7 linked regions of the Homo sapiens genome follow. The protein of the gene in region 1 purifies or fractionates together with the protein of each later gene. This does not show direct contact. Each region holds a gene or a part of one and is shown in the gene's direction. Other genes may lie near its edges.

The links.
Region 2: the proteins of NR2E1 (region 1) and GNB4 purify together in Homo sapiens (affinity purification with mass spectrometry, with the first as the bait; one large-scale study listed by BioGRID). This does not show direct contact.
Region 3: the proteins of NR2E1 (region 1) and VRK3 purify together in Homo sapiens (affinity purification with mass spectrometry; 3 studies listed by BioGRID and IntAct, with this or other methods). This does not show direct contact.
Region 4: the proteins of NR2E1 (region 1) and CARNMT1 purify together in Homo sapiens (affinity purification with mass spectrometry; 3 studies listed by BioGRID and IntAct, with this or other methods). This does not show direct contact.
Region 5: the proteins of NR2E1 (region 1) and DGCR8 purify together in Homo sapiens (affinity purification with western blotting; one study listed by BioGRID). This does not show direct contact.
Region 6: the proteins of NR2E1 (region 1) and TMSB10 purify together in Homo sapiens (affinity purification with mass spectrometry, with the first as the bait; one large-scale study listed by BioGRID). This does not show direct contact.
Region 7: the proteins of NR2E1 (region 1) and CIZ1 purify together in Homo sapiens (affinity purification with mass spectrometry; 3 studies listed by BioGRID and IntAct, with this or other methods). This does not show direct contact.

What each region holds. Positions count from the first base shown.
Region 1 is NC_000006.12:108,176,022-108,179,521, forward strand, and holds part of NR2E1 (nuclear receptor subfamily 2 group E member 1), read left to right. Parts: intron 1-481; coding exon 482-717; intron 718-2,073; coding exon 2,074-2,220; intron 2,221-3,500. UniProt on the Homo sapiens protein: Orphan receptor that binds DNA as a monomer to hormone response elements (HRE) containing an extended core motif half-site sequence 5'-AAGGTCA-3' in which the 5' flanking nucleotides participate in determining receptor specificity.
Region 2 is NC_000003.12:179,413,471-179,416,970, reverse strand, and holds part of GNB4 (guanine nucleotide-binding protein subunit beta-4), read left to right. Parts: intron 1-414; coding exon 415-478; intron 479-1,923; coding exon 1,924-2,086; intron 2,087-3,189; coding exon 3,190-3,256; intron 3,257-3,357; coding exon 3,358-3,500. UniProt on the Homo sapiens protein: Guanine nucleotide-binding proteins (G proteins) are involved as a modulator or transducer in various transmembrane signaling systems.
Region 3 is NC_000019.10:49,978,171-49,980,372, reverse strand, and holds part of VRK3 (serine/threonine-protein kinase VRK3), read left to right. Parts: intron 1-1,130; coding exon 1,131-1,279; 3' UTR 1,280-1,290; intron 1,291-2,202. UniProt on the Homo sapiens protein: Plays a role in the regulation of the cell cycle by phosphorylating the nuclear envelope protein barrier-to-autointegration factor/BAF that is required for disassembly and reassembly, respectively, of the nuclear envelope during mitosis.
Region 4 is NC_000009.12:74,980,290-74,983,293, reverse strand, and holds the end of CARNMT1 (carnosine N-methyltransferase), read left to right. Parts: 3' UTR 1-2,504; downstream 2,505-3,004.
Region 5 is NC_000022.11:20,104,241-20,107,740, forward strand, and holds part of DGCR8 (microprocessor complex subunit DGCR8), read left to right. Parts: intron 1-1,936; coding exon 1,937-2,037; intron 2,038-2,351; coding exon 2,352-2,458; intron 2,459-3,030; coding exon 3,031-3,158; intron 3,159-3,500.
Region 6 is NC_000002.12:84,904,293-84,907,171, forward strand, and holds TMSB10 (thymosin beta-10), read left to right. Parts: upstream 1-1,363; 5' UTR 1,364-1,426; intron 1,427-1,710; 5' UTR 1,711-1,725; coding exon 1,726-1,825; intron 1,826-2,096; coding exon 2,097-2,131; 3' UTR 2,132-2,379; downstream 2,380-2,879. UniProt on the Homo sapiens protein: Plays an important role in the organization of the cytoskeleton. Binds to and sequesters actin monomers (G actin) and therefore inhibits actin polymerization.
Region 7 is NC_000009.12:128,188,773-128,193,030, reverse strand, and holds the start of CIZ1 (cip1-interacting zinc finger protein), read left to right. Parts: upstream 1-1,458; 5' UTR 1,459-1,599; intron 1,600-2,168; coding exon of another isoform or gene 2,169-2,173; coding exon 2,174-2,343; intron 2,344-2,586; coding exon 2,587-2,702; intron 2,703-4,258. UniProt on the Homo sapiens protein: May regulate the subcellular localization of CIP/WAF1.

The sequences.
Region 1 (3,500 bases):
ATTTCTGTGGGGGCGGGGCCTGCGGGTAGGGAGGCTTGTTCTTGGACGGAGCTGGAAAAGTCTGCGCAGAAACGAGGTGTCTGGCGTGCGCGACGCTCCCTCTCTTTTGGATGGGGGCGAGGATACCTGGCTACTCCAGCCCAGAGGGTCTCTGGTTTCCCTGCGAACCCCCTTCCCTGGTGGGGAGGAGCCCTGGACCGAAGGAGAACACACCTGGTCTTACTTGAGGCTCTGCCATTATCGTGGCACTTTGAGCACGGGCCCCTCTTCTAAGCCTCAGCTTCCGAATCTATTCAGTGTAGTGGTTAGACGATCTCAGAATCCCTTCCTCCCTCAGATTCCCTCTCCCTTCTTCTTTTCACCTCTTGGGCGATTTTGCCCGCCCAGACTTGACATTGGGGCGGGGCTGGGGGGAGAGCCGCAGCGGCTGTGTCTCGACGTCTCTAATCGCCGGCATGCGTTTCTCTGTTTGCCTCTGCAGCCGTGCAGCACGAGCGGGGGCCTCGGACGTCCACCATCCGCAAGCAAGTGGCCCTCTACTTCCGTGGACACAAGGAGGAGAACGGGGCCGCCGCGCACTTTCCCTCGGCGGCGCTCCCTGCGCCGGCCTTCTTCACCGCGGTCACGCAGCTGGAGCCGCACGGCCTGGAGCTGGCCGCGGTGTCCACCACTCCAGAGCGGCAGACCCTCGTGAGCCTGGCTCAGCCCACGCCCAAGGTCAGCGGCCTTGCTGGGCCCAAAGAGACTCGTGCCAGCGAATGGAGAGGGACGCACCCAGTTCTTCTGAGCTGTGTGATTGGGGTCAGGCAAACTGGGGAGAGAACTCCAGGGTGCTTGGCGGGTCTCTGCATGGAGCTCCAGCCCTTCTGCTCTCCCTTGTTCAGCCAGGGGTGCTCAAACTTGAGTGTACAGTAGAGTCAACCTCCGAGTGGCTACAAGTGTGCACTCCGGATCTTATCCCCCCAGAAATTTCATTTCAGCAAGTTTGGGGTGGAGGCCAGGAACCTGCACCTTTAGGAAACACCCACTGGTAATGGGTGGTGGGTGGAGACCTCGTCTAAACCCAGAGGGCAGCCTCAGGTGTTCCTAAAGACCAGAAGAACCAACGTTCATTTTTAGAGGAGAGGAATTGGCTACAGCTGGAGGAAGGGCTCCAGAATTCCAAATCTTGGCATGTATGATCTTGGGCAAAGCCATGAGTTTCTAACGCAAGTGCGAAATGTGGAGATCACACTGTTAGAACAGTTTGAGGAATCTGAGTTCATTTCCCATGCTCCCCTCACCTACTTCTGAGGCAGGTGGATTTACAGCAGGGTTGATTCCATAGGAGCAGGGCCACAGCCTGAACCACCTGGAAAGGCTGCCACCTAAGGCCTACCCTCCAGGCCTACAGCTGATACCTACTAACACCCCCACTCCAGGCTGATGAGGGCCTAGGATCTCCCTCAGAGGAGGGCCAGCTGCAGCCCCACACTGCAGGGAAGCCAGACACCTGGGCACATGCACACGCACAATATTTAATATGGCTTTCTTACCCTTGATGTGTATAATAAGCTCTGGAAAGTAGTGTTATGAATATGTTGTCAGTTATGAATGGGAATGCTCTGTGAATGATTAAGATGTCTAATTGAAATATTTCCATAATATACTAATCCTTTCTAAAAATACTCATATGCATATTTGTGTTTGGGATGCCTATTAATTTATACTTTTTCACATCTATTTTTATTTACACAAATGCAAGCAGCTCTTGTCTAAATTGGGAGCCAGGCTTGGCACTTGGCTCAGCCCAAGGAAAATTTGCTGCAGGGGATAGAAAAGCCAGAGGGCCTTCTGGAAGGGAGAGGCTCCCAAAGAGTGGAAATGGACCTCCCCCAACCAGTATTACTTTTCAAACTCTATAGACAGCGATGTTTGATTTTTTTACCCACCAATGTCAACTGCATGTTTAAACAAAACATCCAAATTCTTTTTTATCCCCTTCCTTGCTTTAATTAGAAATTAAAAGTTTGGTTCTTCTTGCAAAGCTGTGGTTTCCTCACTTCCAGGTGTCTTTCTTTCTTCCCTACCCAGTACCCCCATGAAGTGAATGGGACCCCAATGTATCTCTATGAAGTGGCCACGGAGTCGGTGTGTGAATCAGCTGCCAGACTTCTCTTCATGAGCATCAAGTGGGCTAAGAGTGTGCCAGCCTTCTCCACGCTGTCTTTGCAAGACCAGGTATGACCACACTGAGGCCTTGGGAGAAAGAGAGCTGGGAAAGAAGCAGTAGCACTCAGCCTTATAAAACTTCCTCTATCCCTGGGTAAACCACCCAAGGCAGGCATCCATTCTTAATAGCAGTGAGGAAACTACTTGTTTTTACTTGCTTCTTCCTGTGGGTTCAAAATATCTACCTATATGATCCTTAGTAAGAAACGTAATTACATTATTTCAGAAAGGATGGGTCCAGTCTGTGAAAACACACATACAAGAACATTACCTCTTTTTGTTTGATTGGAACAGCAAATATAATCTCAAATTTTAAAATTGTAATGATTTTCTAAAACTGTTGATGAAACAATGTTTTACTAAGAACATTGGAACTGAGAGAAGTAGAAGGTGGTAAGAGTATGCCCTCATGAGATTTTTCAGAACTGATGTTATTATTTTATATTCCCAGCTTTATATTCTCCATTGCGATGCTCCCAGTTTTGGTCATTAATTGATAAGCATGTAAAACCAAAGGGCACAGTGCACACCTCCTGTAGGCTAGGTTCTTCCTTGATTCTTCATGTACTTTTAGACATTTTGTAAACAAATAGGCATTTTGCTTAATTCCGTGGTTGTAAATGACATTCAGGGGAAGAAAAAGTGTGTGCAGTGAAACATTGTATTGTACTGAGACCCAGAAATTTTGTTGATAGGAATATTAGAAATGCTAACATTTTTCTAACCTTAAAGGAAAGAAAGAAAATAAAGTGTTCCCAACCATTGGCTGTTACCAGTGCATTCACAGGAATTAATGACAAATTTTCCAAAGGCTAATAAGTAGTTCTAAAAGCAAAGGATTTATTTCTTCAATTCATTTCATACCTAATTAAAGCATAATAGTGCCCCTTTATATGAAGTATGTTTCCTACGGAAAGATCGGGCAATGTGCTAAAAGCATTTCATTTTCTAGCATGAGATGTTCTTGTTTTCATGGCCTGCCCTTTCAAATATGGCCAGAATTAAATATTGTTTACCTTGCATTTTATAATTATTTCCTGTACTTGATGGAATAAAACTAAAAATAAAACATTAAAAAAATTAAACCCTTTGGTCTAATTGTGATTTTGGTTACAAGCCTTCATGATTCAGCTCTTAGCTCCCAAAAGAAATCCTTTTACATAAATCATTTAGAGTTGACTGGCTTTTGAGTTTTGAGATTTTTAAAGGTAGTTAGGTCCTATCTTTGACCAGGTTTACTGGTTAGCTCTAACCACTTCCTGTGTGTGTGTGTGTGTGTGTGTGTGTGT
Region 2 (3,500 bases), on another chromosome or scaffold:
CTCTAGTATTGTCATATTCTCAGGCTCTCAATTGGTGTTTTTAGATTGGATGAAATATGGTTGTTAGGCTTCTATGTACATTCTTGTCATGAAATTTAAGTAAGTCAGTAAGTACTAAACCAGTCAGCTAATATCCACCCAAATCTTGTATAACTAAGATGTTGTTACCACAAAAATGTTTAATCATAGCCAGACATTTTTAGTCAGTTGCTAAATTTTATTTTATGAAATATGTTCAAGATTTTTGGCATGCAGCATAAATTTTTTAAAAGTTGGAAGAACATTTTTTGGTATCAAGTTTTTAGTTGGAAAAATTGTATTTTTCTGAATTATTCTACATTAATGCAATGCATAACCAATTTAAGCTATTTTTTCCCTCTAAGTGTCAAATTATTTTTGTGTTTGTTCCTCTAGGCTGCTAGTCAGTGCTTCTCAAGATGGAAAATTAATTATTTGGGATAGCTATACAACAAATAAGGTAGAATTTCTTCATAATTCTTTTAAATAACCTTATATTTGTTTGGCTGTTCACCAGTTCTTTCCTTTATTCTTTTACCTCAAACTTAAATTGCTTTCTGAGATAAATTTATTGTTTATTTTAATCTAGTTCTTCTCTTTTGTCTTAGTGTTTACTTTTAATGTTTAACCCTTTTTCATTTCCAAAGATGACTCTATGTTTTACTAGAGGGCTCATATTTAATATATGAATATTAGAAGAGTACCATTTTACATATACTAATAAATGATTTTTAAAAATTCCCATTTCCTAATATGACAAAGACCTTGAGATTTTTATTTCTAGTTTTGGATAAGTTAGATGGCTAGTGGGAAGCTCTTCTTTGGCCCGCTCCAGGCACTGATTTGTGCTTCTGGACTTTTTAGAAGATACAGTAGATTGGAGGTAAATGACAACTTACGTAGATCTCTTGGTGGTAAAAGACTGTGGATGGTCCTAATACATCCACTGGAAGGAATCCCCAGTTTAAAATAGTTGAGTGGTGAAAAAGCTTCAGGAATACTTTGATAAGCTAATACCTTTATACTCTGTGTATACATATTAGTATTTTTATTAAACATTTGAAAATACCATTTTGTGAAATAATAATTTCAACCTGATTGAGATTTTAAAGCTAGCTAAGACAATTTTGTAATATAATAGTTTTTCTTTATTAATCATCATTAAGCACATTATCTTTCAACTATATTTTCATAAAACAAAAAAAATGTATTTTAAGCGTATTATTTTAGGTTAAGTGAGAGCATAGTAGTAATCCTGCCACGTGTTGATTCCCTGTATGGACTGTTTAGCCGTGGTATTCTCATACACCTTTTTTCCATCTGACCTTCAAATGATTGGTGTTAGGGTAACAAGGCAGCAGACAGTGTTGTTTCTAGAGCAATAAAAAACTATCACCATTGTTTGAATGAGATCCCAGAATAAGGGCCTATTAATAGAGGGATGCCAGTGTTGTCTTTTCATGGAAGACTCATGTAATCGACTCTGATACTTGCTAATTATTTCCCTAGTTCTTGTTCAGAGTTATGTTGGAGGAAATTTCTCTTCTGAGCACTATTACAAAAGTGAAAATTCTATTAAAACCTCTAACATTTTACACTTAATTTTTCAAATGGCAGTATATTAACCTTGGAACATCTTTATGTTCATTATTTTATTAAGAGAATTATTTCCAAAAAGAGCACTTTTTGACTCAAATGATTTGATAATACAAAACAATAGGCATTTTAATGTGCGTTAGTGTTGTATTTTTCATGGTTCACTTTCTCAAGCCATTACATTATTTTATTTGACTTATCTTTCTTAGATGTGTTTAATTTTTAATAATATTTACTTCATTGTAAATGGGTTTATGCAATAGATGACTGTTTTTGTAATCTGAGTGATGTGTGGTGTGTGCCCTACAGATGCATGCTATTCCTTTGAGGTCCTCCTGGGTGATGACCTGTGCTTATGCTCCCTCTGGTAATTATGTTGCCTGTGGAGGCTTGGACAACATCTGCTCTATATATAACTTAAAGACCAGAGAGGGAAATGTGAGAGTAAGCCGAGAGTTGCCAGGTCACACAGGTGAGCTTCCCTAAATATTCTTTCCCACCACACGATTCCTTGTGTGGAATGTGCTGATCAAGGACAAATGACAGATTGTGCTCGGCTGGCTAAAGGATGAGGATTAATCGGGTGGGAATGAAATTATTATGAACAAAGGAAACATTAACTTTTTATAGTCATACAAACGTTGATCATAATTTTATTTTTCAAAAATAGCTGTATTGTTTTTGTAAAAAATGATAAATTTACTGCACAAAATTCAAACTCATGAAAAATAAAGCAAATAAAATGTTCTCCATTTTCTGCTGCCATATAACAATTATGGGATTGTGGCATCTGTACTCAATTACATAATTGAAAGTATGCATTAAGGTACATTAGTGAAGTGCTTTTCACCATGATAGTGTATTGCTTTGTTTGCCAGTGTGCCCATCATAGTTCAATAGTGTAGTATTGGGTTAGTGGTGTTAATCAGGAATTTATTGCCACTTATCTGGTATCTATCCATCTGAATTTTTAGCCATACTATTTGACCATGCTTTTACAAAATCTCTAGAATGGTGTTTTTCTGACATTTCCATATTTTGAAACACTGATGAATGCTAAGCATTCAAATGCCACATCTTTCATAAAGTCTTCACTGTTGTTCTTCTGATTTCTTACAATATTTTATTTTTTTAATATTTTTTATTTGAAAAAAAAATTTTTTTAACTGCTCCTTGCAGAGAAGGGCTAACTCATAGGCGGTGCACCCAGAGGCATCCTCTCACAGTATTTTAAAACTATTTCTCCAGGGTGCTTAACACAGTCGGCCATAGATTATAGTTCTTCCCAAGGTAATTGTCTTAGGTGGCAGGGGCTGTGTCTTATTCAATTTGGTAACTTTCAGAGTACCCAGCACAATGTCATTAACATAGTTAATGCCTAAGAATGGTTTGTGGATAAAATTTGGTTTATAGACAATGTAGGATTTGAAGTAACTAAAAGTAGAACTATAGACTATATTGACAAACACTTGTTGCCCAAGTATTCTATTTTTAAAAATATATATTGCTATTTCACATGGTAACTGAGTTATTCAATCAGTGATAACCTAAAATTTGCTACTCTTTATGCTGTAGGGTACTTGTCCTGCTGTCGTTTTTTAGATGACAGCCAAATTGTTACAAGTTCAGGAGATACAACTTGGTAAGTTTATTCCAGAAGCACACTGATTATGGGTTTGAGGGTGGTAGCAGGAACTGACATAAGAAGAAGTAATTGTCATGAAATTTTGTTTTTAATTACAGTGCTTTATGGGACATCGAAACTGCCCAGCAGACCACCACATTCACTGGGCATTCTGGAGATGTGATGAGTCTTTCTTTGAGTCCTGACATGAGGACTTTTGTTTCTGGTGCTTGTGATGCCTCTTCCAAATTATGGGATATTC
Region 3 (2,202 bases), on another chromosome or scaffold:
CACTTAACCCTGGGGCCATCCTTCATGCCCTTCCTTATAGATGCACCACAGCTTTTATCAACAGCTGCACAATGGTCATGGTTTGTCCGCACCGTAACTTATAAAGCCAATCCCTGTTACTGGGTATTTGCACTGTCTTGTTGGGGTGTCGGGGGTGTTTGTTTTTCCTGTTGTCTTTGTGCCCCTCCTGAAGAGCTTTGATGCTTTTCTCCAAGCTGGAGGCAGAAATGGACAGACAGAAACAGATAGCTTGTTCCCTCTGGCTCTCTAAGGCTCATTTTTTAATTATTTATTTTTTTAAAATTTATTTTATTATTTTTTTTGAGACGGAGTCTTGCTCTGTCGCCCAGGCTGGAGTGCGGTGGCGTGATCTTGGCTCACTGCAAGCTCTGCCTCCCGGGTTCAAGCCATTCTCCTGCCTCTGCCTCCCAAATAGCTGGGACTACAGGCACCCGCCACCATGTGTGGCTAATTTTTTGTATTTTTTTTTTTTAGTAGAGATGGGGTTTCACTGTGTTAGCCAGGATGGTCTCGATCTCCTGACTTCATGATCCACCCGCCTCTGCCTCCCAAAGTGCTGGGATTACAGGCGTGAGCCACCGCGCCCGGCTGAATTACTTTAAATCCCTGGGTTCAGATTATGGCTCAGCTGCCCAAGTGACACTCCCCTCCAGTTCTACCTCTGTGAACCTTGGGCCTCGAGGATTTTAAGCTGGTCAGCCAGAGGTTGGAGGTGGAGGTGAAGCAGGGCCCGCCCTCTTTAAAGATACATGCTAAATATTTATATGCAGGTAGACTGCATTGCTAGCTGGGATTTGCTTTAAAACACTGCAGGCCAGGGGAGGGGTCTTGATGAAACAAGATTGGCTGTGAGGTGATCCTTGTTGAAACTGAGTGATGGGTACTTGGGTGTTCATGCCCTTCTACTGGTGCCTGCGTATGACATTTTCCAAAACTGAAAAACAATTGAAGTCCTCTGGCAATGCCAGGCAACAAGAAAATGGGCACTTTTGCTGAGACCCTCATGCCCCTCAGTCCCCCACCCCTCCATCCTTGGGTGGAGACCCCCAGGATCGGGGTTGGGGGATGCCTCTCAGGCTCTCCCTTGCTGGGGGTTGTCTTGACCACAGAGACCCTGCAGAAGTACCTGAAGGTGGTGATGGCCCTCACGTATGAGGAGAAGCCGCCCTACGCCATGCTGAGGAACAACCTAGAAGCTTTGCTGCAGGATCTGCGTGTGTCTCCATATGACCCCATTGGCCTCCCGATGGTGCCCTAGGTGGAATCCAGGTGGGAAGAGCTTGTGAGGCTTAAGCCTCTCACCCCTTGCCCTCACCCGAGCCCTGCCCCAGGCTCCAGGAGACACTTCCCAGAGGCTGTTCCACGTTCATACCAGGGCCCAGCTTCCCAGGGAGACACTGGGTTTTTCCGCACGGTCCTTGAACTTCCCAGCCTCAAGGAATGGCAAGTAGCAGAAACCCGGCTCAACTTGGCTTTAAGAAAAGTGGGGATTGATTGGCTGTTGTAGCTAGAAAATTACAAGGGGGAGCTTCAGGCACAACGGGATTCAGGGCCTCAAAAATAGCATCAAGACGTTGTTTGTCTCTCGCCATCTTCTGTCCCTTCTTGCATCCATGCCTCCCTCTGTCCTTCCACCCGGCCACCTGTAGTCTCTACTTTCCTTTGGCCTGGCCCCCTTGGCGCCCCCATACACAAAAGGTAGCTGCTCCATGCCTTCGGGTCTCGTTCATAGTGCGCACTACCCCTTCCTGTGGATGACGGACACTCCTCACAGCCAGCAGCTGGGCGTTTGCTTAGTTTCCCAGATTTTTATTTTACCAACAGTGCTGCCTGTGTGCACAGCCCGGCTGCTGGCGCACGCTGTCTGTGGATGGAGGTATCAACTTGACAGTGCTGACTAGATGGCTTTACTTCCATCAGCACTTTGTGTAAACGTGCAGGAATTTTTACAAGGTCAAAGACAGACTACACAGTAAATTTTGGCAAGGGTGCAGAGATGTGTGCTGAAGAGGAGCTTCTCCAGGCTCCTTTTCTCTCCCCGGAGTAGTCATTTCTCTCATCGGAGTTGGCTGGAACCAAAGCTCAGTGCTTTGTCTGATTTGGCACCACCCTGGGGGCATTTGGCAGTGTCTGGAGACACTTGGTTGTCAGGATGCGGGACAGTGGAGGCCGGGATGCTGC
Region 4 (3,004 bases), on another chromosome or scaffold:
CTAAGAAAACTATGCGTAAAATATGTCTTTTTTTTTTTTTTTCTTCAGAGACAGGATCCCGCTCTGTCTCCCAGGCCGGAGTGCAGTGGCACGATCATAGCTCACTGTAACCTCAAACTCCTGGACTCAAGCGATCTTCCTGCCTTAGCCTTAGCCTCCTGAGTAGCTAGGACTGTAGGCATGTACCACCGCGCCTGGCCTGTGTCTATTTTATCATTCAGATTAATTTAATTTTGTATTTTCTGGCTCAGATGAACTTAAAGAAGCATCAAACATTTCTTTTTTATGAAATGTTAAATTTAATAGCATCACAGGCCGGTAAAATATATTCAAGTAACAGAAATATCAAAGTCTTTTGGCCACAATAAACTGAACACTTTATGAAAGCATACTCATCATGGATCACTTTGAAATATACGAGATCTCAACATTCAAAGTGAGAAATAAAAAGCCTTTATTAAAAGTAGTGCTAGGAAACAGAGAAAATAAGAATAAAATTTACCCATTTGAAATATGTGATTTTCAGACTCTAAATGAATACAGAGTTTGACAGTGTGATGTTTACAATAATGTCTTTTCTTTAGAATATCTGGATTATGAAAGCAAGCACTTTTTTCATTAAAAAAATTATATACTAGGAAAAACTGTCATAATAGTATTAATGTGGGGAATTTTGATTATGAAATTCAGGGATATATTACTGCCCGTGGTCTGTGTCTTCAATATTGTAAGCAGCAGCCATCATGTAATTTCAGATTAATACCAATTTTGTTCCCTGATAGATGGAGCTTAAACAGTATATGCTGCTTTAAATTTCTACCTCTAGCAGATCTTTATTGGAGGGAGTTTTCCTTTGTATTTTTTAATGTATGATATTCTGTTTCCAGTAGCTTGGAAAGTAGAGATGACTAATGTTTTAGCCTTTTCTTGGAGAAAAGGAAGAACTCTTCTTGAATATTTTCACAGATGATTGTGATTGCTTTAAATGACCTCTGTGGCAATTTAAATTAGATGGATTTAATCTCAGTAATGTGCTGGTCGCATAAATGTCATGTTTTAATAGGAAAAGTTACTTGTAAATCTTTAGACCTTTGTTGTCACTTAGGCTGGGGAGTCACTACCCTATTTGGCATCTTACTAGTTGGGGGGACCTTTTCCGTGTACAGTGATGGGACTTTTGTGACCTTTACTCTCACTATGCAATAGAGGGTTTCATGTAGTTAATCTGACATGTCAAAATTGGGAAGACTGTAACCTTTTTTTTTTTTTTTTAAGATTTCTCTTTTTTGTGTCCCTCAATACTTAGCAGATGTTCATTTGGTGGAAATTCTTATTACTTACATGAATGAGTTTGAATTTAGTGGCAAGGAAGAAAAAAAAAACTCAAATTATTGTTTTAAAAGAAGAAAACTTGCAAAGTACATAAGTATTTTTTAAAAATCAATCGAACAGAAAGGAATGCATGCTGTTTTTCAATGGCTTAGACATGCTTTTTATTCACTGACTAGTATTCACTTTTTTACAACTTGTATCAAAACAAATGATCTTTGTTTTTGTCACAGGCAAAAACAGGTTGACACTGGTGGGTTGGCTTTATTAATTAATTTTTTTTCTATTAGGTTTTCTTTAATAATGTTAAATTTCTAAATTATAGCATATGTTTTAGTTAATTCTGAAATCAGTTACTTCATTTGTTAATTTATCCCTCATATCATGAATATTGTTTTTTAAATGTTCTATACAAATTTGCATCACTTCTTTTCTTACAGCTTTTGCAGTTAATATATTCTAAACTTGAAAATGTGGTATCAATCAATAATAGAAGTATCACTGGAGGATTTATTTAGCTTTGTATTTCTTAATTTTAGTCCTAGCTACTAAAGTATGTAAGCCTTAAAGTTTAAAATGTTTTTCTTAAATTAGCTTTATACACAAACATTTTCATTTACTTTATGAAATGGGAGGAGATAGTCCACTGTGCTTATGTTTTTTTGTTTAATTTCTATATTCTGAAGCAGTGCAGATATAGGGTATGCTAATCAAGTGAGCAAGGTGGAACATGTACAATATAAGGAGAAGCTGTAAAAATCACAGTATAAAATTATGAAGTTTGGTAACTGTAAAATGTACTGTATTTATATGTAACTCTCATTCTAAAAGTTGCCACAAAAGCTGAATTGGAAGCTTCATGTCTGCATGAAATTTCCTATATTTTTAATGTGTATGATGAAATTAATTTTTCTTGAATATTAAAGTCTGCCAATTGCTATGAAACGATAGTTGCTTGGTTTTCATCTAAATTAATGTAACTATAGATGTGGGGATTTTAATGAGTTGAGCATATATACTTTTGAACTCTTGGATTAGCCTATTTTTATATGCTTCTAAGAAGTCAGTAACATGAATACTTCGCCTTATAATATGCCAGGCCTTATACTAACTATTTTCACTTTGTTTCATTCAAGTTCACTGTAATAAAGTTAGAATCCATTGAGGAAAATGAATAATCTTGATTTTCAGTTTTGTTAAATAATGGAAAAAGAACTATAAAAGGAACTAGTAGAAGACAGTTCTAGGACCAGCCATCAGTGGGATGAGCACTTAGATCTTCTGGGTTCATTTTCCTGAATGATTGTGATCTCAGGCAAGCCACTCTTTGGCTTATTTCCTCATCTGTAAGAGAGGATTAATACCATCTATTTCAGATGGTTTATTAGGTCATATGAGCTTTTATATATATTTTTGTGTGTATGAAAGCACATGATAGACGATTACCATAAATGTAATTTCAGTCTGTGTTGACTGCTATATAGTGATGGAAAAAATGAGGATTGTTAACAGGACATTAGTTTTAATTATCTTACAGTGACCCTTTGAAAAAGATTTCCGTGGAATCCTGGGGAAAACAGTAAAAAATGGTAGGTACAGATACAGATTCCAAAAGTTTGTTGGGAATTATAATGAAGTATAATAGTAGGTAATGGGTGAGGGCATAAGTAAAATT
Region 5 (3,500 bases), on another chromosome or scaffold:
TGCAAGCTCTGCTTCCCGGGTTCACGCCATTCTCCTGCCTCAGCCTCCCGAGTAGCTGGGACTACAGGCGCCTGCCACCGCGCCCGGCTAATTTTTTTTTGTATTTTTAGTAGAGACGGGGTTTCACCTTGTTAGCCAGGATGGTCTCGATCTCCTGACCTCGTGATCCACCCGCCTCGGCCTCCCAAAGTGCTGGGATTACAGGCGTGAGCCACCGCGCCCGGCTGGCGTCGGTCTTTTGCCAGAAACTTCTGAGCGTGCTCTCTAGCTGTGTGTGTGTCAGCCACTGCCTCAGCTTCTCCAGGGCCAGTCCCGAAGCCGTGGGGTATGTGGGTTCTTGTGGGCCGACAGCACTGGACGTTGCTAATTGGTTGGCTGGTTGACAAACCCTTGAGGTTCCAGGGCCTGATGTCTTGGTGAGTGACCTTCCCTGGAAAAAGACCCATGTTGATTTGTGCACTTGAGAGGAGCAGTGTCTTCTGGGGACCTATTTGAAGACAGTAGCCAAGCCATACCTCGAGGATTTTTCGCTTGCCAACCTCAGGGCTAGTGCCTTCCTCTTCTATGCAGTTGCAGCGAGTTGGCCTTGCTGCTTGCTGGAGCGGCGAGGGCAGAGGAGCTGCCCACTGCCCTGTCTGTAGGGCCAGTGTCCCTGTGGAGCGGGCTTGGCACACTGTGGAGCCTGCACAGCGAGGCGTGTGAATCATTTGATTCTAGGTTTCCTCGCTGCCCATGGGCCAGGCAGGCTCCAGGTCCCTGCAGACCCCTCCAGAACAGGGCCAGTGGGGGAAGCACTGTGAGGGTGTGGCTGATGGGTAATCTCCAGTGCTTCAAAGTGTGGTCTTTTTTGGAAAGAGGATGATTGCAGATAGAATTAGGTTAACATGAGATCACACTGAAGCAGAGCAGTGGTGTGATCCAGTGTGTCTGGTGTTTCTCTAAGAAGAGGGAGGAGGGGCAGGGCTAGTAGTCCATATGAAAATCGGAGCAATGCTGCCATAGCCAAGGGATGCCGGGGCCACCAGGAGCTGGCAGAGGCTCCCTAGAGGCTTCTGAAAGAGGATGGCCCTGCTGAGGCCTTGATTTCAGACTTCAGAATGGTGAGAGAATAAACCTCTTGTTCTAAGCCACTGACTTTGTGGTATGTTGTCACAGGAGCTCCACCAGGGAGGTTGTCCATGCTCCAGAGTGGGCTGGATAGCATCTTCCTTTCACCCAGGAGGCACTCTCAGCTTCAGCCAAAGTCCTAGTCTGGGAAGGCACAGTGGGCAATGTCTCTGCACCTCAGCCTGCTGCAGCTTCCCTATGCCTCACTGTGTGGAATCTCCCCATCACCTCTTGTTTCCCTGTCTGCCTCTCTTGTCCTTCCTGTGTGTTCTTGGGTTGGCTGCAGAGCCAGGGTGATGACACTGTTGGAAGCCTTGCTGGGCTGGGCCTCTGCTGGCCACCTGGGGCTGGGCTCTGTGTAGCTGTGTGGGGCTTTGGCCTTTGGGGAGCTGGGCCTTTTAAGGCCAGCTTTTGGGTCTGGCTGACTTTCCCTCTCCTGTAGTCTCAGTTGTGGCAATAGTAAAGCCTCTCTGCAAAGGTGCTTTATCTTTATAGAGTTCTGAGAAGGGTGCCTTATGGATCAGAATCAGATCCAAATAAGGTGGGCCTGGCCAGCCAGCCATGTACCTGGGGCCCTCTTAGGATACCAGACTCCATCCCACAGTGCTCAGGGTGGAAGGGTGCTGTGGGCTCTGGAGATGGGCAACTGGACGGTGAGGTACGGAGCATGTCTTGTACCCGGTGGGTTCCTTGCAGAGTTGAGGTATGAAGTGCTAGGCGAGCTCACAAGAACAGACATTAAGCATCTGGGGAAAGCCAACCGCAGGCCCAGCCATGAAGAGGCCGGTGGGCCTGGTGGGGACTCACAAGCCTCTGCTTTGTGTTGTAGTATTTTAACCACATCAGCATCGAGGACTCGCGGGTCTACGAGCTGACCAGCAAGGCTGGGCTGTTGTCTCCATATCAGATCCTCCACGAGTGCCTTAAAAGGTAGGGTAGGGGGGTGCCTCCCCCCATGAGTCAGGTCGGGGGAGCTCCTCTCTGGCGTCTCATATTCTTGTGGCTGTTTGTCCCAAGGCAGAGGCATGGCCAGGTTTCCCTGGGTACACAGCAGCCCCTTGGCCCTGGCCACCAGTCAGTCCCACAGGCCTGAATCGGGCGTGTGGAGAATTCCCTCCTCTGGCTGAGATGCAGTCTGGGGAGAGGCTTGGTCATTTCCTAAGGGCTTCCCAGAGCAGGCCTCCTCAGAGGCAGCTGGCTGCTCTGCTCAGGGGACGCCATCTGTTGTCTGTTTTCTCTTAAAGAAACCATGGGATGGGTGACACGTCTATCAAGTTTGAAGTGGTTCCTGGGAAAAACCAGAAGAGTGAATACGTCATGGCGTGTGGCAAGCACACAGTGCGCGGGTGGTGTAAGGACTCCTTCTCTGCTGCCTGGTGGCCGCTGGGCGGGCGGCCCCTGGTGTGGCCCTGCGCCTCTGTGGCTTGGTCTCAGCTGTTGCCCTGGCATTGTCCCTGAGCCCAGCTGTGTGTGCTGGCCACCACACGTTCAGCCTAAGGCGGACTGGCAGCCGTCCTGCCTGCACTTTCCCTGTCTTTTCCCTTTCCCCCGCTGTCACCCCTGTCTCCGTCCAGCCCTTGTCCCTGTGGCAGGAGGAAAGGCCCTCCTCCTCGAACAGCCAGCAGAATCCTGCTGCTCCCTGTTTCTGGAGGTGTGCGTCTTGGCGGGAGGGAGGCTCTCGGCTGCGTGGCTTTGAGTGGTAGTGTCCTCAGCTCCTAGACTCTGAGGGCCACTCTCTCAAGGTGGCAGCTGGGTACTGTGAGACTCAGGTGCCCAGAGCAGTGGCAGAGTGCTGCCTATTCCTGTAGAATGTGCCCTGGCTGGCCCTCGGGGTGTGGGTCAGGAGGGCTGGGAGCGGCAGGGGGCCCCATGAGCACTGGGTGTTTGTGACCCCCTCTCCATGCTTGCTCTTTCTCTGTGTAGGTAAGAACAAGAGAGTTGGAAAGCAGTTAGCCTCACAGAAGATCCTTCAGCTGCTGCACCCACATGTCAAGAACTGGGGGTCTTTACTGCGCATGTATGGCCGTGAGAGCAGCAAGATGGTCAAGCAGGTAACTGGCCATCAGCAGGTCCCAGGGCAGCCTGTGCTGCCACCCTGGAGCGTATTCCTGAGGCTCTGTGCTCAGAGGGGGCAGAGCTGGGCAGCTCTGCTGTTGCTCACAGCTGCCTCTCTCCTGGGCCACTTGTGTGGCTTTGTGGGCAGGGGTGGGGTCGTCCCAGCTACATCTCCTATCCCAGCCTGCTGGGCATGGTCAGTGAAGTGTGGGTGATTGGGAACGCAGGCTGGGCCCAGCTATGTGGCTTGTAGGGAGATGGCCAAAGTGCAAGGCAGGGCCAGGCAGGAGATGCTGAAGGTGCGCCCGGCTCGGAGGTGTGCAAAGGCTCAGGAGCCA
Region 6 (2,879 bases), on another chromosome or scaffold:
CCCAGAAGTTCGAGACCAGCCTGGGCAACATGGTGAAATCTCGTCTCTACAAAAAGAACACAAAAGATTTGCCGCTAGTGGTGGTGCACGCCCGCAGTCCCAACTGCTCAGGAGGCTGAGGTGGAAGAATCACTTGAACCGGGGAAGTCCAGGCTGCCATAAGCCGTGATCACACCACTGCACTCCAGCCTGGGTGACAGAGTGAGACCCTGTCTCAAAAAAAGTAAATAAATAAAATCAGGACCGAATTTAGGATGTCACCACCAAATCCCACTTTAAAGAGCTCGGTAATACTTCACACTTAAAAAAGGAAAGGTCAGGACAAATAAAAGAATGACCAGCCTTAACTCCGGGGCTGGTAATTTATGGAACTTATTACCTAACGGTGTTGCACAGGCTGAAAATACAACTTTTCTAAGAAAGATGTGAATAATTGCAGTATACCACTCCTACAATGGGTTAATAAGAAAAACAAGAACGTTTGTAGGCATGTGGGTCTCTATTATCCTCAAGGTTAACTTCAAGGAGGAAAACCGCACCCGCTGATACAGTGTTTCTAGGAGCTCGACGAGAAAAGGCAAACTGCGAGCCTTCTCGGGACGCCCTGTTCCCACCACAGCCCTTCACACAATGCGTCTAACAGCATTTAAGGAACACCCGCCACGCCAACGATCCTGCTGGAACCGCCCAGTTCAGGGAACAGGGGACGACTGACCAGAAGGCAACCGCCCCCAACCTGAGCAAAGAGCGCTGGAAACCTATTCCCCCCTCCCCCTACACCCCCCCGCCCCCCGCTCCACTACGGGACCCTCGGCTCGAATTCTTTTAGTGCAGGACCACCTTAGGACTCAGCCTCCCTAAGGAGAGGAAAAGTGGGGGAGGGAAGGGGACTCTGGAGGAGCAAAAGCAAGAGGCCTGGGGGCGACTGGGGTGGGGCGTCTCCTAGAGCGAGGATTGCTGCAGAGTGCGCGTGCACGCCCGCACATCCACACCCACGGCTACACATCATATCTGCACACGCACAAAACCACACACCCTCCCACGCCGGTCCCATATCCTTTCTGCGGGGTGAGCAGCAGATTCCCGGAAAGGGGGAAATGTAGCCGCAAAAGCAAAGCCGGGGGCCTGGCGCCCACTCTGGCGGCGACTACAGCCCCCACGCTGGGCACACTGCGAGCTGGGGGTGCCCGGCGCGGGAGAAGCCGCGCCCAGCCGGGCTGGTAGCCCAGCGGGGGGCGCGGCAGGGCGAGGAGCAGCCCGCGCTGCTCCCGCCCCTCGGGTGCCAGCACCGCCCCTGCTGCGGCGGGTGAGGGGCGGGGCGGGGCGCGGCGTATATAAGGCTAGGGGCGGGCGCCGCTCTTTTGTTTCTTGCTGCAGCAACGCGAGTGGGAGCACCAGGATCTCGGGCTCGGAACGAGACTGCACGGTGAGTGCGGCGCCGGGGCGGGGGGCCCACCCAGGGTGTGGTCGGATCCGGTGCACCGGGCGGGCGCGCCGCAACCGCGACAGGCGCCCTTCTCGGACCGGACGCAGGGGCCGGCGACCACGCCCTGGGACCGAGAAGAGGGGTGCGGGACGCGCCCAGATCCTCGGCCTTGGGGCTGCTCGGCACGCCTTGGCGCGAGTGCCACGTCGAGAGGCGTCGGCGGGGAGCGCGGAAGGGGACGCTGGCCCCCAGGCCCAGGTCAAGCGCCTTGGTTTGCCCACTAGGATTGTTTTAAGAAAATGGCAGACAAACCAGACATGGGGGAAATCGCCAGCTTCGATAAGGCCAAGCTGAAGAAAACGGAGACGCAGGAGAAGAACACCCTGCCGACCAAAGAGAGTGAGTGTGCCTCGGTCTCCCGCGCCCCAGCCCAGCCCCTCACCCTGCTCTTCCTTGCAAACCCACTCCTCCACCCCCCACCCCGCCGTTGTCCCCGGTGTGGGCGGCCCCGGCCACTCTTTCAGTTTCACAAAGCGCCTTGTTTCTCCCCAGCCCCAAGCTTCCTTCTAAATCCCCACACCTCGTGGGTGCCTCGCCCACACCGGGAAGCACCTCGGTTGCGGGTGGGGGTTGCAGCTCCCCTCCAGCGCCCGCTTCCCGCTCTCCACAGCCATTGAGCAGGAGAAGCGGAGTGAAATTTCCTAAGATCCTGGAGGATTTCCTACCCCCGTCCTCTTCGAGACCCCAGTCGTGATGTGGAGGAAGAGCCACCTGCAAGATGGACACGAGCCACAAGCTGCACTGTGAACCTGGGCACTCCGCGCCGATGCCACCGGCCTGTGGGTCTCTGAAGGGACCCCCCCCCAATCGGACTGCCAAATTCTCCGGTTTGCCCCGGGATATTATAGAAAATTATTTGTATGAATAATGAAAATAAAACACACCTCGTGGCATGGCTGGCGTGGTCTGAGTCTTTTAGTTGAGTATGCGTGGGCAGTGCCACTGCAGCAAAGCCCCTCGATGGAGTAGAGTTCCTGCCGCAAAGGGGAGGAGGTGGGTCGCAGAATGGGCTGACTCGGAGGGAGTTTTTAATTTTGGCTTTACCTGCTTCTCCGTAAGATTTCATGACTTGTTAGCCACTTAACTCTTGCTCGTAAGCAATCTGTGTAAAATTTAACCCCACTTTGTCCCCAGGTTGCGTTGGAAAATGCTTTTTCAAAAGAGCAAGGTTTGCTTTTGATAAGCTTCGAAAGCCCCACTGTTTCCCTCTGGCCTCCTCCTAGCTGACTCAGAAGGGAACACTGATTTTAAAGAAAGAAAAGACAATCTGGAATGTTGGAAATTGGGTGAGGTCACAAAGTCTCCGGAAGCCTTTCTTCGGGAGCTTAAAACAAAGGCGGGATCTAGGGATACAGCAACGGGAACGTCAGAACTAGAAGAACCAACACTAGAA
Region 7 (4,258 bases), on another chromosome or scaffold:
GACGCGCGAATTCTGCTGCCCGAGCGCCCTCCGTCAACGCGCTCCGCCTGCCCGGGTCTGCGCGCCGCCAGTGCCCCCGCGCGCCCTGCCCGCCCAACGTCGGCGCGGAAGGCAGGGCGAGGAGTCGCCCAGGCTGTGACACGCACAAGGCAGGGAGCCACAGAAAAGGGAGCCGGAATTGCTACTTAGTCCAGGAGAGGTGGCTCACCCCTGTAATCCCAGCACTTTGGGAGGCCAAGGCAGGCGAATCACTTGAGGTCAGGAGTTCGAGACTAGCCTGACCAACATGGTGAAGCCCCGTCTCTATTAAAAATACAAAAATTAGCCGGGCGTGGTGGCCCGCGCCTGTAGTCCCAGGTATTCTGGAAGCTGAGGCGGGAGGACCACTTGAACCCAGGAGGCGGAGGTTGCGGTGAGCCCAGATCGTGCCACTGCACTTCAGCCTGGGCGACAGAGTGAGACTCCGTCTCAAAAATATAAATAAATAAAAAATAAATAAAAGAATTACTACTTAGTAGCCAAGGATTGTTACGGCGCGGGGATGGGGGGATACAGCGGTTGTTAAGGGGGTTCTTGGGGGCAGGACCATTTTAGGTGCAGGATAAGGGAGCAGGGCTCTGTTTTCCTCTCCTTTTCTTTTTAAAATTTTTACTTTTTTTTTTTTGACAGCTCTTGCTCTGTCGCTCAGGCTGGAGTGCAGTGGCGCGATCTCAGCTCACTGCAGCCTGTGCCTCCCGGGCTCAAGTGATCCTCTTGCCTTAGCCTCCCGAGTAGCTGGGACTACAGACGCCCGCCACCACCCTGGCTAATGTTTGTATTTTTTGTAGAGAGGGATTTCGCCATTTTGCCCAGGCTGGTCTTGATCCTCCAGCCTCGGCCTCCCAGAGTACTGAGATTACAGGCGGAAGCGCCCGGCCCCTAGGGCTATTTTTTGATAATTGGCCTCGACCCTCCTCACCTACTCCTTCCTTAGCCAAATCTACTGAGAAAAGACTTGGAGGGGGACTCTCCCTCCACCCCTCCGTGGGCAAACTCCTGACGGACTGTAAGACCTTGGCCGCCCTCTCGCCTGGCCTGGGTCCCTCGAATGAATGTACATCCGCCAACTGCGCGCCCCCTCTCACCGCAGCCCCGCGCGGGGCCCCAGGATCGCAGGACCGCGGCGGCCGCAGGGAGGTGGGTTGGGAACAGGAAGGAAGTCCCCCTCGATGCCCCGCGGGATGGCTGACCCTTCCGGGCGGCAGACGGACCTTGGTCTCCGAGCCTCCCCTTCGCGATGCGGAGGACGCGGGACAGAGGGTATGAGCCGCCCAGGACCCCCTCGCACCTGCTAGCGCCCCGCAGCCGCCCCCCAGCGTGACTTGTGCACTGGGCGGGCTCGGGTGGCGCGGCCGGAGGCGCCTGGACCTCCCGTCCCCCAGAGGGCGCTGCCCCGGCCGGCCCCGCCCGCATTTGGGCCTTACGAGCCCACAGGCCCCGGAGTAGCAGCGGGGAGGCCGGGAGCCCGCGGGCCGGAGCCGCCCGGCCGAGGCGTGGGGGCTGCGGGGCCGGCCCATCCGTGGGGGCGACTTGAGCGTTGAGGGCGCGCGGGGAGGCGAGGTGCGGGGCCGGGGGCGGCTGGGTCGTGGGGCTCCGCCTGCGAGCTGGCTGTGTCTGCGGAGGAGGCGGCTGGCGGGGTGGGAGCGGGCGGAGTGGGGCGCGAGGAGGTGGCGGTGGTGGAGAGAAGCCGTCCCACGGAGCTCAGGACCACGGTGACCGGGTTGGACGGGTGCCGATGTTATTGACACCCGGGGGCCCAGAGAGGGTTGCGGTATTGAAAAGGGGCTGTGAGTGAGGAAGTGATGGGCGCAGAGAGAGGCTGAGGCTGAGGGTGGGAGGATGGAGCCGCCAGAAATGGAGAGATGGAGGGACTTGAAGGAGGGGCTGTTGGCAGTGTCTGGGGGGCATTGGCAGGAGGGTGGTTGAATCTTGCCCCTAGCAGGACTGGAGGTAACTTGGAAGGATGGGCCAAGCGAGTGTGGCAGGCTCTTGGCAGGACTGGGAATGCAGCTGTGAAGCTCCTCAGCAGTCTCTGCGGGCTGTGGCTGCGGGGAGTGGCGGTGGATGGGAGGGGAGCAGGCCTGACTTATGGTGGGGACCCCTTGCCTCACTCTGCTTTCTGCCCCTAGCCACCATGTTCAGCCAGCAGCAGCAGCAGCAGCTCCAGCAACAGCAGCAGCAGCTCCAGCAGTTACAGCAGCAGCAGCTCCAGCAGCAGCAATTGCAGCAGCAGCAGTTACTGCAGCTCCAGCAGCTGCTCCAGCAGTCCCCACCACAGGCCCCGTTGCCCATGGCTGTCAGCCGGTGAGTTCCCCTCTCGGGCGCGATGGCTTCAGCCTTGCTACTCAGACCCATGTCTCGGAGCTCCCGATCCCCATCCTTTTTCCCAGTGCCATCCCCGTTTGAGTCCTGGAGATCACCAATTCCAGCCCCAAGGGGTCCTCTGTCTACCACAGAGTGGGGCAGAGAATGGAGGTGAGAAGCCTTGGGGAAGAAGGAAGGTCTGACTTTCCAAATAACCCTCTGACACCCCCTCCCAACACACAGGGGGCTCCCCCCGCAGCAGCCACAGCAGCCGCTTCTGAATCTCCAGGGCACCAACTCAGCCTCCCTCCTCAACGGCTCCATGCTGCAGAGAGCTTTGCTTTTACAGCAGTTGCAAGGTATGGATGGCCCCAGGCCTCTTCTCAGTCTCTTTTAGTGGTAGCTCCCTAGCAGCGCATTGCTCTAAATCTCAACTCCACACAGCCACCCTGAGAGGGAGCTATTCTTGGCATCCTAGTTCACTCATGAGGACACTAAGGCTCCAGGAGGTGAAAGTCCCTAAGCTGCTAATTTGAATGCAGATCTGTCTGATTGCAGAGGTGTGTCCTTGGCCATGGTGCTGGCTCTTTGGGCAATACTCAGCACACTTCACTCACATTCAGATTAGATGCCATCTGACAGGTGAAGAAGCTAAGAAGGGAAATCATTTGCCCTGCATCAGCAGTGGCTAAGCTGGGCCGATGCCTGGGCCTCTTGACCATCCAGATGTCTGAGTGGTTGTCTCTAGCCCTGTGCATTAAGTCTGTGGCCTTGTCTCAATTTCCCAATATGGAGAGCAGTCTCAGCTCTTCCTTCCAAGATGCTGCTCCTTTTTTTTTTTTTTTTTTTTTTTTTTTTTTTTTGAGACAGAGTTTTGCTCTGTCGCCCAGGCTGGAGTGGAGTGCAATGGTGCAATCTTGGCTCACTGCAACCTCCGGTTCCCGGGTCCAAGCAATTCTCCTGCCTTAGCTTCCCGAGTAGCTGGGATTACAGGTGCCCGCCACCATGCCCAGCTAATTTTTGTATTTTTAGTAGAGACGGGGTTTCCCCATGTTGGCCAGGCTGGTCTTGAACTCCTGACCTCAGGTGATCCACCCGCCTTGGCCTCCCAAATTGCTGGGATTACAGGCGTGAGCCACTGCGCCCAGCCAAGATGCTGCTCCTGATTCTACTGATAACCCCCTAAGGAGAGGTACAACCATGATCCCATTTTACAAATGAAGAAACTGAGGCCCAGAGAGGGGTCATGTGCCCAAGATTACATAACAAGTCGGTATTGATTAGATGGTTGTCACTCTGTGGACCTGTCAGGGCCACATGGATGTGGTCCTGGGAACTGACTTAAAAATGATAAGCAGGTAGGTAGAGAGAGAGAACCATACACAGGGACCTGCCACATATACATATACATCTTCCTTTTTTTCTTTCCCATTTAAAACATTACACCCTTCAGCCATGGGTTGTGGCTCACGCCTGTAATCCCAGCACTTTGGGAGGCCAAGGCAGGAGGATCACATGAGTCCAGGAGTTCGAGAACAGCTTGGGCAACATGGTGAAACTCTGTCTCTATTAAAAATACAAAAATTAGGCTGGGTGTGGTGGCTCACACCTGTAATCTCAGCACATTGGGAGGCCGACCGAGGTGGGCGGATCACGAGGTCAGGAGATCGAGACCATCCTGGCCAACATGGTGAAACCCCGTCTCTACTAAAAATACAAAAATTAGCTAGGTGTGATGGTGTGCACCTGTAGTCCCAGCTACCCAGGAGGCTGAGGCAGGAGAATCACTTGAACCTGGGAGGTGGAGGTCGCAGTGAGCTGAGATCGCGCCACCGTACTCCAGCCCAGCAACAGAGCGAGACCCTGTCTCAAAAAAAGAAAAAAAAAATTGGCTGGGCGTGGTGGCGTGCGCCTG